Linked DNA regions of Homo sapiens: region 2 is linked to region 1. Evidence: fine-mapped expression QTL. A gene starts in region 1. The other region holds a variant in brackets. All regions are shown on one strand. Distances are from middle to middle.

What was found.
Region 2: its variant is fine-mapped to the expression of TTC21B in thyroid (GTEx, PIP 0.92).

What each region holds. Positions count from the first base shown.
Region 1 is chr2:165,951,618-165,957,000 of GRCh38, reverse strand. It overlaps TTC21B (tetratricopeptide repeat domain 21B), which reads left to right and starts at 3,225. Exons shown (of 29, transcript NM_024753.5): 1 at 3,225-3,316. The coding sequence starts at 3,296. RefSeq lists an enhancer at 2,461-3,210 and a silencer at 2,975-3,374.
Region 2 is chr2:165,857,936-165,863,318 of GRCh38, reverse strand. It overlaps LOC100506124 (a long non-coding RNA gene), which reads left to right. Exons shown (of 4, transcript NR_045375.2): 2 at 254-375; 3 at 4,915-5,104. Among named protein-coding and RNA genes, the nearest start is that of GALNT3, 66 kb to the right of the region's middle. The variant C/G (reference allele first, on the strand shown) is at 2,645.

The DNA.
Region 1 (5,383 bases):
GGTGAAGCCAGCTGGGCTCCTGAGTCAGGTGGGGACTTGGAGAACTTTTATGTCTAGCTAAAGGTTTGTAAATGCACCAGTCAGCACTCTGTGTCTAGCTGAAGGTTTGTAAACGCACCAGTCAGCACCCTGTGTCTTGCTCAAGGTTTGTAAAGGTACCAATCAGTGCTCTGTGTCTAGCTAATCTGGTGGGGACTTGAAGAACTTTTGTGTCTAGCTAAAGGATTGTAAATTTACCAGTCAGCACTCTGTGTCTAGCTCAAGGTTTGTAAACACACCAATCAGCATCCTGTCAAAACGGACCAATCAGCTCTCTGTAAAACAGCCCAATTAGCTCTCTGTAAAGCAGACCAATCAGTAGGATGTGGGTGGGGCCGGATAAGGGAATAAATGCAGGCCACCTGAGCTAGCAGGGGCACTCTACTGGGGTCCTCTTCCACTCTGTGGAAGGTTTGTTCTTTTGCTGTTTGCAATAAATCTTGTTGCTGCTCACTCTTTGGGTCTGCGTGCGTTTATGAACTGTAACACTCACCGCGAGGGTCCGCGGCTTTATTCTTGAAGTCAGCAAGACCAAGAACCCACCAATTCCGGACACATTAAGGTCTGAACGAAAATGACGTATTTCTGGAGACGAAGATGTTAACTGCTACATTATATTATCTAGCTTTATAGTGCTCATCATCTGGTAGAGAACATTAAACAAAAATGCACTATAACTAGTAATACAAGGACTATGCAAGTGTAATAAGTCTTATAGAGCAGGGGTCCCCAATCTGAGGACTGCAAATCAGTGCTACACAGCAGGATGGGGTATACAGCAGGACGGGGTACACAGCAGGAGGTGAGCTGCGGGGCAGGAAAGGGAGCGTTACCCCAAGCTCCACCTCCTTGTCAGATCAGCGAGGCATTAGATTCTCATACGAATGCAAACCCCATTATAAACTGTGCATGTGAAGGATCTAGGCTGTATGCTCCTTAGATAAGAATCTGATGATCTGAGATGGAATAGTTTCAACCCGAAACCATCTCCCCTACCCCTGTCCATGGAAAATTTATCTTCTGTGAATTGTCTTCCACCAAACTGGTCCCTGGTGCCAAAATGATTGGGGACCACTGCTATAGAGCACTACGTGTTTAATGGAAACTATTGGTTATACAATGCCTATTATGTGTCAGGAAGTTTTAATATGTCTGTAAGGCATTTAGTTTCTTTAGTAAATAAGGAAAATGAGGCTTAGGGAAATTACTTCCCCAAGTCACAAAAGTAGCTAGCGTAATAGGAGCTCCACCTCAGATGCAGAAGAGGGTATTCTTGCCACTACACTGTGATATTTTTATACCCATCCAGTTATGGTGATCCTTAAAGACTTCATGAAATTTGAAATGAACTCAGAAGAAGGAGATTTTCTCAGGTGAAGAAAGAGCTCAAAACAAAGTAGGGGAAAGCATTACCAGAAGAAGGAATATTTGTCCCACTGAGCGGAATAAAGGCTCCTTGAAGGGGAGGTAGAAGATAAGGCTTGAAAAGACGATGAGGTGAAGGGTCATGGATATCAGACTCAAAAGTTTGTAGCTAGTAAAAGTGAGCCGATAAAAATGTTACTGCTAAGGAACACATCGATTTTTCAGGAAAGACAAGAGTTTTTCCTGGCCTGAGATCCAAAATAAATTTCTTACATGAGATCTAGTAAGGGCACAGGGCACACCAAGTCACCGTGAGTGTCAAAGCAAATCTCAGAGTACTTTTAATCCAACAAACATTTATGAAACATCAGGCTTGGTGTTTTGTGCTAAATAATTCAACCTTAGAACAGAATTCAGTGAAGAGAATACGAGGCTAAATTAATATGACTTTCAAGATCTCCAAAAGGTAGGTTGATCATCTGTTCTGTTAACCATGATCCTGAGATATTTCCTTACAGATGAACTTTTCTCTTATAACCAAAGGTTTACAGTTCAAGATTATACACTTCATTGAGCACCCTGGTCCTGTGGTATTCTTTGCTGTATACCAAGTGCGGATTAATCCGCAGCTTTGAAAATCAAAGAGATATCACCAGTTGTTCATCACCACAGACATTTAGCTGGACTATAAATATTGGAAAGAAAAAAAAGTTGCTCGTGAAAATACGTGGTGAATTCCTTTAAAGAGAAACCGGTGAGAAATATTGCTTCACCTTAAAGCCTAGGATGGTAGCTACCGTTTTTCTCAAGACTGTCCTTACATAACCTATTGGCATGGGGAAAAAGTCAATGTTTATAAACTCCTTAAGAAACTTAAAATCTGGAAAAGGCAACTACGTATCATGTCAACTAAAGTAAGATAATTAACACTAGGATCAAAATTTGGAATCCACGTGAAAGATTCTGCAAAGATCACTTAAATCTCAGACCTTATGCACTATTTTAAATATTTATTTAAGCAGAAATAGAAAATCTTAGTCTATTATATTTCCATTTAATTTCCTGGACTTAAGAAATCTATGTGTGACTGATTGAGTTGCCTAATGGGGTGCAAACATAAAAATTTGCATTGGGATTCATTTTATTCTCAGTTTAAAATCAGTAGTATCATTGAAAACAAGACACTAATTTTCTGGAAGTTTAATTTATTTGTCCCTCTTATTATCGGGGCTGGTAAAAAAGGGCTAATTGAACACACATTCTAACAAAGATTGCAGCAACGCCTGCAAAGACGGGCCCAAGCGCACCGTATTTCTGTTAAGAACGTGTGATTTTTTTTTTCTGCGCCACCTTGTGGCCGTAAAACAACTTGCCCACGTGAAAGTTGACCGCTTTTTCCCGCGCCGGCAGAGCCTTGCTGAGAGCCGCACTGCGGGAATCCGCCTCCAGACAAACGTGCAGAAAATGGTGTCTTCCTTTACAACCAGTGACAGGAAACAGACTTCCCCTTCTTCATACTCCGTTTCCTTTATTCCTGAATTCCATTTCCTCGGCCCGCCCACCCACTGTCCTCAGACAGCCGTTTCCCAGTGTGACCTCCTTTTCCAGCTGCACTCTCCGGCGGAGGCCCTTTTCCCAGCCCGGACCCTCCCGGGCGGCCCTCGCAGCCCTCACCTCCGGGTCCCCGCCGCCCCTGCTCCATTACAGCACGATCCCCGCCACACAGGCCCGCCTCTCCCTCCGACAGCCAATCGCGGCGCGACCCCGCCCCTCCCGCTGGGGCCCGGGGCGCTAGAGCGCTCCGGGAGGCTAGGGGAGCTGAATTCTGCGTCTTCCTTTAGGCTGCGGCGAGACAATCCCCAGAGCCCCGCGGCCCGGCCTCGGGGCAGCCATGGACTCGCAGGAATTGAAGGTGAGCGGGTGAGCGGGTGAGCGGGTGAGCGGGCGGGCGGGCGGAGTTCCTTTGCGGCCTTTTGGCCCGGGGGCGCGGAGGGAGCTCGGGTGGCTTCGCTAGGCCGCTGTTTCCCTGCGGTGCCCCGGCTGCTCGGGTTGCGGGGTGGGCCTGCAGCCTCTGCTCACGGCCGGTCTCCGCGGGCCCTGCTGGGGAAGCCCAGGTCTGGGCAGCCCGCCCGCTCGGTGTTTCTGAATTGCTGGTCCCCATGCTGTTGGTTGTGTTTACTTTTGTATCATGTTTACTAGGAAAGCTTGGGTTACCTATGACACTGCGCCTCCGGGTGCGATTTTTAAGGACTTAAGGCAAACTAGTGTCAGCTCCCACACTGGACAGTAAAAAGAGCGCAGAAAGATTATATGAAACCCATTAAAGACGTAAGACTTAAAAGTGGAGGGGTCGTTATTTTAGGGTGATGGTCTTCTCTGTTTATCACTGACTCATTCATTCAGCAAATATTAATGACGGTCAACTTAAGAAAGGCTGATATAAAACAGTTAAAGACATGAGGCTTGAAAATAAAATAACTTTTCGGATGTTGGTCTTCTCTATTCATTTGTTCACTGAATCACTCGTTCAGCAAATATTTATGAAGGGTTACTGTATGTCCATTAGAAGCTGGAGATAGCAGTGAGCAAAACTGAACAGTTTCTGCCTTCTCAGATTTTACAGGCTAATTAATGCTGGGGAAAAACCCTAATTCAGTTGACTCAACAAATATTTACTGAATGCCTCCTATGTGTCTAGCACTGTTCTAAGCACTGAAATAATAAAACCAAGAAAAACTCTTCCAATCTTGGAGCTTACATTTGAGTAGGAGGAGTCAGACAACAAGTAGGTAAATGAAATGTGTATCCTGTGAGATGGTGATAAGTGGATGGAGGACAATTTGGCGATGTAGGAGGTTAGGGAATGCTGAAATGTCTTGTTTTTCTGCCTGAAGTTTTACATTATCCTCTGTTCTAGCTATCCCCCTATATCCTTACATTTTTTTATTCCCTTAAATGTATTATTTGCACTGCCACCCAAATGAACATTTTAATAAAAACACTTTAATGTAAAATGTAAAAATGGGCCTCCTCATTACTTAGACTTGAGGTTCAAGTCCAAGTACTTAATATGAGGCTTTTCACCCCACCTTCGTCTCCAACCTCATCATCCAATACTCTCTGTCTCACTTAAGCCTCCAGAGCAGAGAATAGCAAACTTTCTCAACAAAGGGCCAGATAGTACACATTTTAGACTTTATGGACCGTATGGTCTATCACATCTAATTGGCTTGTTCAAAACAGCCATAGACAATACTTAAATGAGCATGGCTGTGTTTCAATAAAACTTTATTTATGAACACTGAAATTTGACTTTCATGTAATTTTCATGTTATGAAATATTTCTTTTTTTTCCTTGACAGCTGGAAAATATAAAAACCATTCTTAGTTCACTGGCTGTACAGCCAGCCAGCCAGATATGGCCCACAGAGTGTGGTTTGCCAAACCCTGCTCTAGAGTATGGAGTGGCTTTTAGTCATCTTCATCACCACTGCCATCCCAATGTACCATTGATGACTTGTTATCTGTGTTGTTGCAGTTCCTCTTCCTAACTCCTGTACCTTCCTCAAGAATCATGAAAAGGAAATAGGAAGAGCGTGTACGTGTGTGGAGGGAGAATGAGGGGTTTGCAATTCAAGAGTCAGCTCTGAAATCCTCCCCAATAATCTTTCCCTTGATTTTAGTCATCCATCCTCCCCTCACACCACATTCAGTTTTCAATGCTGTCAAAATGTTGCTATCCCACATTCCCAAAGGAGTTTATAAGCTCTTTTCTTACATTTACTACATTATATTTCAGTTAGTCTTCAGATTACAGTCTCATCTGAAAAATGTAGGTTTTCCGGGGGGACAGGAACCATGTCTTACTCATTTTTCTATTCATAGTAGCTAGCCCAGTGCCTGGGTACTAGTAGGCAGTCAGTAAATGTTTTGGATTGAATAACCTAACCTGAACCAAGGCAGTAGCATTAGGTATGTT
Region 2 (5,383 bases), 94 kb after region 1:
CATGCTTGATGTGAGAAGAGTACTGAGGTCCCAGCCAAAAAGAGGGCAGCCAAGTTTGGGGACTGCAACTGCAGGTTATCTACCTTTCTGATGCTTCAGAAAGGTTTGGTATGTCATCCTCACCAATGTTCTATCCATAGTGACAGTGAATGATACTCCTTGTGGGTCTGTCTTCATGGCCAGTTCACAGTGAAAACTCTTACTGCTGTTTCTTAACTAAATTTTGCTTTTCTGTCTGAACTGTCATTACCAGCACCCTCAGTCATCACAGTCATTAGACTGGACATCTGCCTCCATGGAGAATATGTGAATACCTGTGAATGTACTTCCTGGAGGCGCTGCCAAACTATTTCCAGCAATGACAAAACATAGCATGTACGTGAATTCCCAAAGTGCCTTCCCTGGGCATTCTTTTCTAGCAACAGTATACCTTCTGGTGACTTTCTAACAAAGCAATTACATAATTCCTGGAAAGCGTGTACTTTTAAAATTTTAGATCATTGAATCTCATCCTTTCATTTTAGAGGTAAAAAGGGAGCTCAGGAACATTGATTAAATTGCCCAATTCATTTTTATATATGCATTTTTATATACATATGTATATATCCAAAAATAATATCATATAATTATATACATGTACCTACACACACATTCATATATAAATACACACATGTAAAGAGGAAGGAATCAGTTACACAAATACATAATTTTTTTTCAGGTTGTCTAAAAGTATACTCCAAGTTCCCCCAAGCTAGAGACCATTATTATCAGTGATTGCTCTACAATTTGCAAGTAGCAGAAACCAACTTAGGATGGCCTGAGTTATATGTAACTCTTCAAGTTGGCACTGGAGCTGAAAGGTGGGAAGGAACTGGAACCAGGGACTGGAATGTGGGCAGGACTCTATGCCTTTCCTCTGATACTTTCTGCATGTTGCTGTTCACTCAACTATCCATCCAGATATTCACTGAAGACCTATTCTATGCCAGGCACTGTGCCAGGCAGAGGGAAAGCCCTCATATCGGGCAGACCTGGTCTTCTCCAGTAGATCTTGTGAAACTTATTGGCTCTCATTCTCTCTTGCCACTGCCATGTAAGTAGTAGCTTTTGCTTCCACCATGATTATGAGGCCTCCCCAGCCATGTGGAACTATGAGTTTGTTAAACCTCTTGTATTAGTCTATTTTCATGCTGATGATAAAAGACATATACCTGAGACTGGACAATTTACAGAAAAAAAAGAAGTTTAGTGGGACTTACAGTTCTACTTGCCTGGGGAGGCCTCACAATCATGGTGGAAGCCAAGGAGGAGCAAGTCAAATCCTACATGGATGACAGCAGACAAAAAGAGAGAGCTTGTGCAGGAAATTCCTCCTTATAATACCATCAGATATTATGATACTTATTTGCTATCACAAGAACAGCACTCAGATATTATGAGACTTATTTGCTATCAGAAAAATAGCACATGCCCCCATGATTCAATTACCTCCCACTGAGTTCCTCCTACAACACGTGGGAATTCAAGATGAGATTTGGGTGGGGACATACCCAAACCATATCACCTCTTTTTCTTCCCAGTCTCAGGTATGTCTTTAGCAGCAGCAGGAATACAGACTAATACAGTAAATTGGAACCAATAGAGTGGGATGCTGCTGAAAAGATACCCGAAAACAGGGAAGCAACTTTGGAACTGGGTAACAGACAGAGGTTGGAACAGTTTGGAGGGCTCAAAAGAAGCCAGAACAATGTGGGAAAGTTTGGAATGCCCTAGAGACTTGTTGAATGGCTTTGCCCAAAATGCAGATAGCAATATGGACAATAAAGTCCAGGCTAAGGTGGTCTCAAATGGAGATGAGGAACTTGTTGGGAACTGTAGCAAAGGTGACTCTTGTTATGTTTTAGCAAAGTGGCTGGCAGCATTTTGCCCCACCCTAGAGATTTGTGGAACTTTGAACTTGAGAGAGATGATTTAGGGAATCTGGTGGAAGAAATTTCTAAGCAGCAAAGCATTCAAGAGGTGACTTGGGTGCTGTTAAAGGCATTCAGTTTTATAAAGAAATCAGAGCATAAAAGTTCAGAAATTTGCAGCCTGACAAGGTGATAGGGAAGAAAATTCCATTTTCTGAGGAGAAATTTAAGCTGGCTGCAGAAGTTTGCATAAGTAACGAGGAGCTGAATGTGAATCATTGCCAAGACAATGGGGAAAATGTCTCCAGCGAATGTCAGTAGTCTTCAAGGTAGCCCCTCCCATCACAGGCCTGGAAGCCTAGGAGGGAAAAATGGTTTCATTGGCTGGGCCCAGTGTCCCTCTGCTGTGTGCAGTCTAAGGACTTAGCGCCCTGTGTCCCAGCCACTCCAGCCATGACTACAAGGGGCCAAGCTAGAGCTCAGGTTGTGGCTTCAGAGGGTGCAAGCTCCAAGCCTTGGCAGCTTTCACGTGGTGTTGAGCCTGTGAGGGCACAGAAGTCAAGAATTGGGATTTGGGAACCTCCACCTAGATTTCAGAGGATGTATGGAAATGCCTGGATGTCCAGGAAGAAGTTTTGCTTCAGGGACAAACCTCACGGAGAACCTCTGCTAGGGTAGTGTGGAAGGCAAATGTGAGGTAGAAGCCCCCACACAGAGTCCCCACTAGGGTGCTG[C/G]CTAGTGGAGCTGTGAGAAAAGGGTCTCTATCTTCCAGACCCCAGAATGGAAGATCCACTGACAGCTTGCACTGTGCACCTGAAAAAGTCACAGGCACTCGTTGCCAGCCCATGAAAGCAGCCAGAAAGGAGGCTGTACCCTGCAAAGCCACACTGGCAGAGCTGCCCAAGACCATGGGAACCCATTTCTTGCATCAGCATAACCTGGATGTGAGATAAGGAGTCAAAGCAGATTATTTTGGAGCTTTAAGATTTAACTGCCCTGCTGGATTTTGGACTTGCATGGGGCCTGTAGCTCCTTCGTTTTACCCAATTTCTCCCATTTGGAATGGCTGTATTTACCCAATGCCTGTATCTCCATTGTATCTAGCAAGCAAGTAACTTGCTCTCAATTTTACAGGCTCATAGGCAGAAGGGACTTGCCTTGTCTCAGGTGAGACTTTGGACTGTAGACTTTTAAAAGAGTTAGTGCTGAAATGAGTTAAGACTTTGGGGGACTGTTGGGAAGGCATGATTGGTTTTGACATGTAAGGACATGAGATTTAGGAGGGGCAAGGGGCAGAGTGATATGGTTTGGCTGTGTCCCCACCCAAATATCATCTTGAATTCCCACGTGTTGTGGGAGGGACCCCATGGGAGGTAATTGAATCATGGGGGCAGGTGTTTTCCATGCTGTTCTCATGATAGTGAATACCTCTTACAAGATCTGATGGTTTTATAAGGGGGAGTTTCCCTGTGCAAGCTCTGTTTGCCTGCTGCCATCCATGTAAGACATGACTTGCTCCTCCTTAGCTTCCACCATGATTTTGAGGCCTCCCCAGCCATGTGGAACTGTGAGTCCATGAAACCTCTTTTTCTTTATAAATTATCCAATCTTGGGTATCTTTATTAGCAGCATGAAAATGGGCTAATACACTAGTTCTCACTTCTCACAGACGTTTCACTACTCCCATGTTGTAAGTTTGGCCACATGCAGAGAATGATGTGTAGTTTCTTAGTCCCCAACTCCCACCACCAATATGGCCAGGAAGGAGGCCACCAGGTGACACAGGTTACCCAGGCCCACATCTATGGATAAAAAGGTTGCTGGGCAGACAGCCTGAAGGCTCCACTACAACATGTTATCTGATCCTTTTGCACTTCTCCCTCCACAGTATTTAGTCCAATTTTTTTTTTAATTCACTCAAGTGCTAGCTTAGTTGAACACCTACATTTAAAAACCCACAACTTTTAGTTAAACAATGTAGAAAATTACTGGACTTTCACTGATAAAGAAATTTGCAACATGGTAAATTATTTGTTCAAAATCATAATTCTCCCATCTGTTTTATTTCTCCAAATGTCCAAGCAACCCAAACCAGGACAGTACCAAGGGCTGTACCACCCTAGTGGTACAACCACTAGATATCACCATGACTAAACTAAGAGTTCAGTCGGAACTGTGCTGCTGAGAGTATCAATGAGTTGACAGCTGCCCAGGCTTGCACTTTTCCAAATCACGGAAGAAGGAGCCATAAAGAGCCAGGCTCATCAAAATTGAGTATAAGCAATTCTCAAAGACCATGTTGATAAACAACAAGACCCTTGACCTTTATATTCCTTCTTTATGTGCTAGGTGGCCCTTATATTTACACATTTTTAAATTATTATATAAAAAGAGCCATTAACCATGGTCCCAGCTCATGTAAAAGATGGAGAGATGCTGGGAAGGTATCAAATCAGTTTGGCTCCAGTTAGCCCCAAGGATTTTTCATTAGGCCACGCTACTAAGTCTCTCTGACTTTAATCCCATTTTCTTGGGCTCACATATATCCTGGGGCATTGTGAGGTAAGAATAAGTCAGTCAGGAATCAAACAAAATTCAAAGAAATGGATAGGCATCATGATATGGTTTGGCTCTGTGTCCCCACCCAAATCTCATCTCAAATTATAATCCCCACATATCAAGGGAGGGACCTGTTGGGAGGTGATTGAATCATGGGGTGGTTTCTCCCAGGCTGTTCTTGTGATAGTGAGGGAGTTCTCACAATATCTGGTTGTTTGATAAGTGTCTGGCATTTCCCCTGCTTTCTTGCTGTCTCTCCTGCTGCCTTGTGAAGGAGGTAGCTTGCTTACCCTTTGCCTTCCACCATTATTGTAAATTTTGAAGGCCCCCTGGCCATGTAGAACTTTCAGTGAATTAAACCTCTTTTCACTATAAATTACCCAGTCTTTGGTATCTTTATAGCGATGTTATAACAGACTAATATTAATACATATCACTTCTTTAGGGAAGGCAGTAAACAAGATGCTAACTGATGGAGTGAAATCCCCAGGAGATGCAGAAGGCAAGTGCAGCTAACTGAGGCCTCAGGGGCAGGAGATGCCCATCAGGATGAGAGCTATGTCTTTCTCCAGTGATGACTCTGCTTCTATGAGGTCACCAGCAGTAGAACCATATCTTGCTGGCATACACTTGGGGTAAGAATATCATTGGCAAAGTTGCTTAAGATCCGATCTGCTTAACTATAACTACCTCCCCCTTCCCTGTTTCCTTCATCTTCCTACTCATATACACATGATACTTTCCTCTCCCTTTTTCTAGTTCATCCCCCTGGGAGAACCACTTTCTTGCCTAGAGTGAAACTCTACTCTCTTGTTTATGTTCAACATATTTTGTTGATGCTCCAAATTCTCTTGTTCTGGCTTCTCTCCAAGGCATTTTGTCCTTTTCCTTACAACTAATGTAAAAAAGAAGAA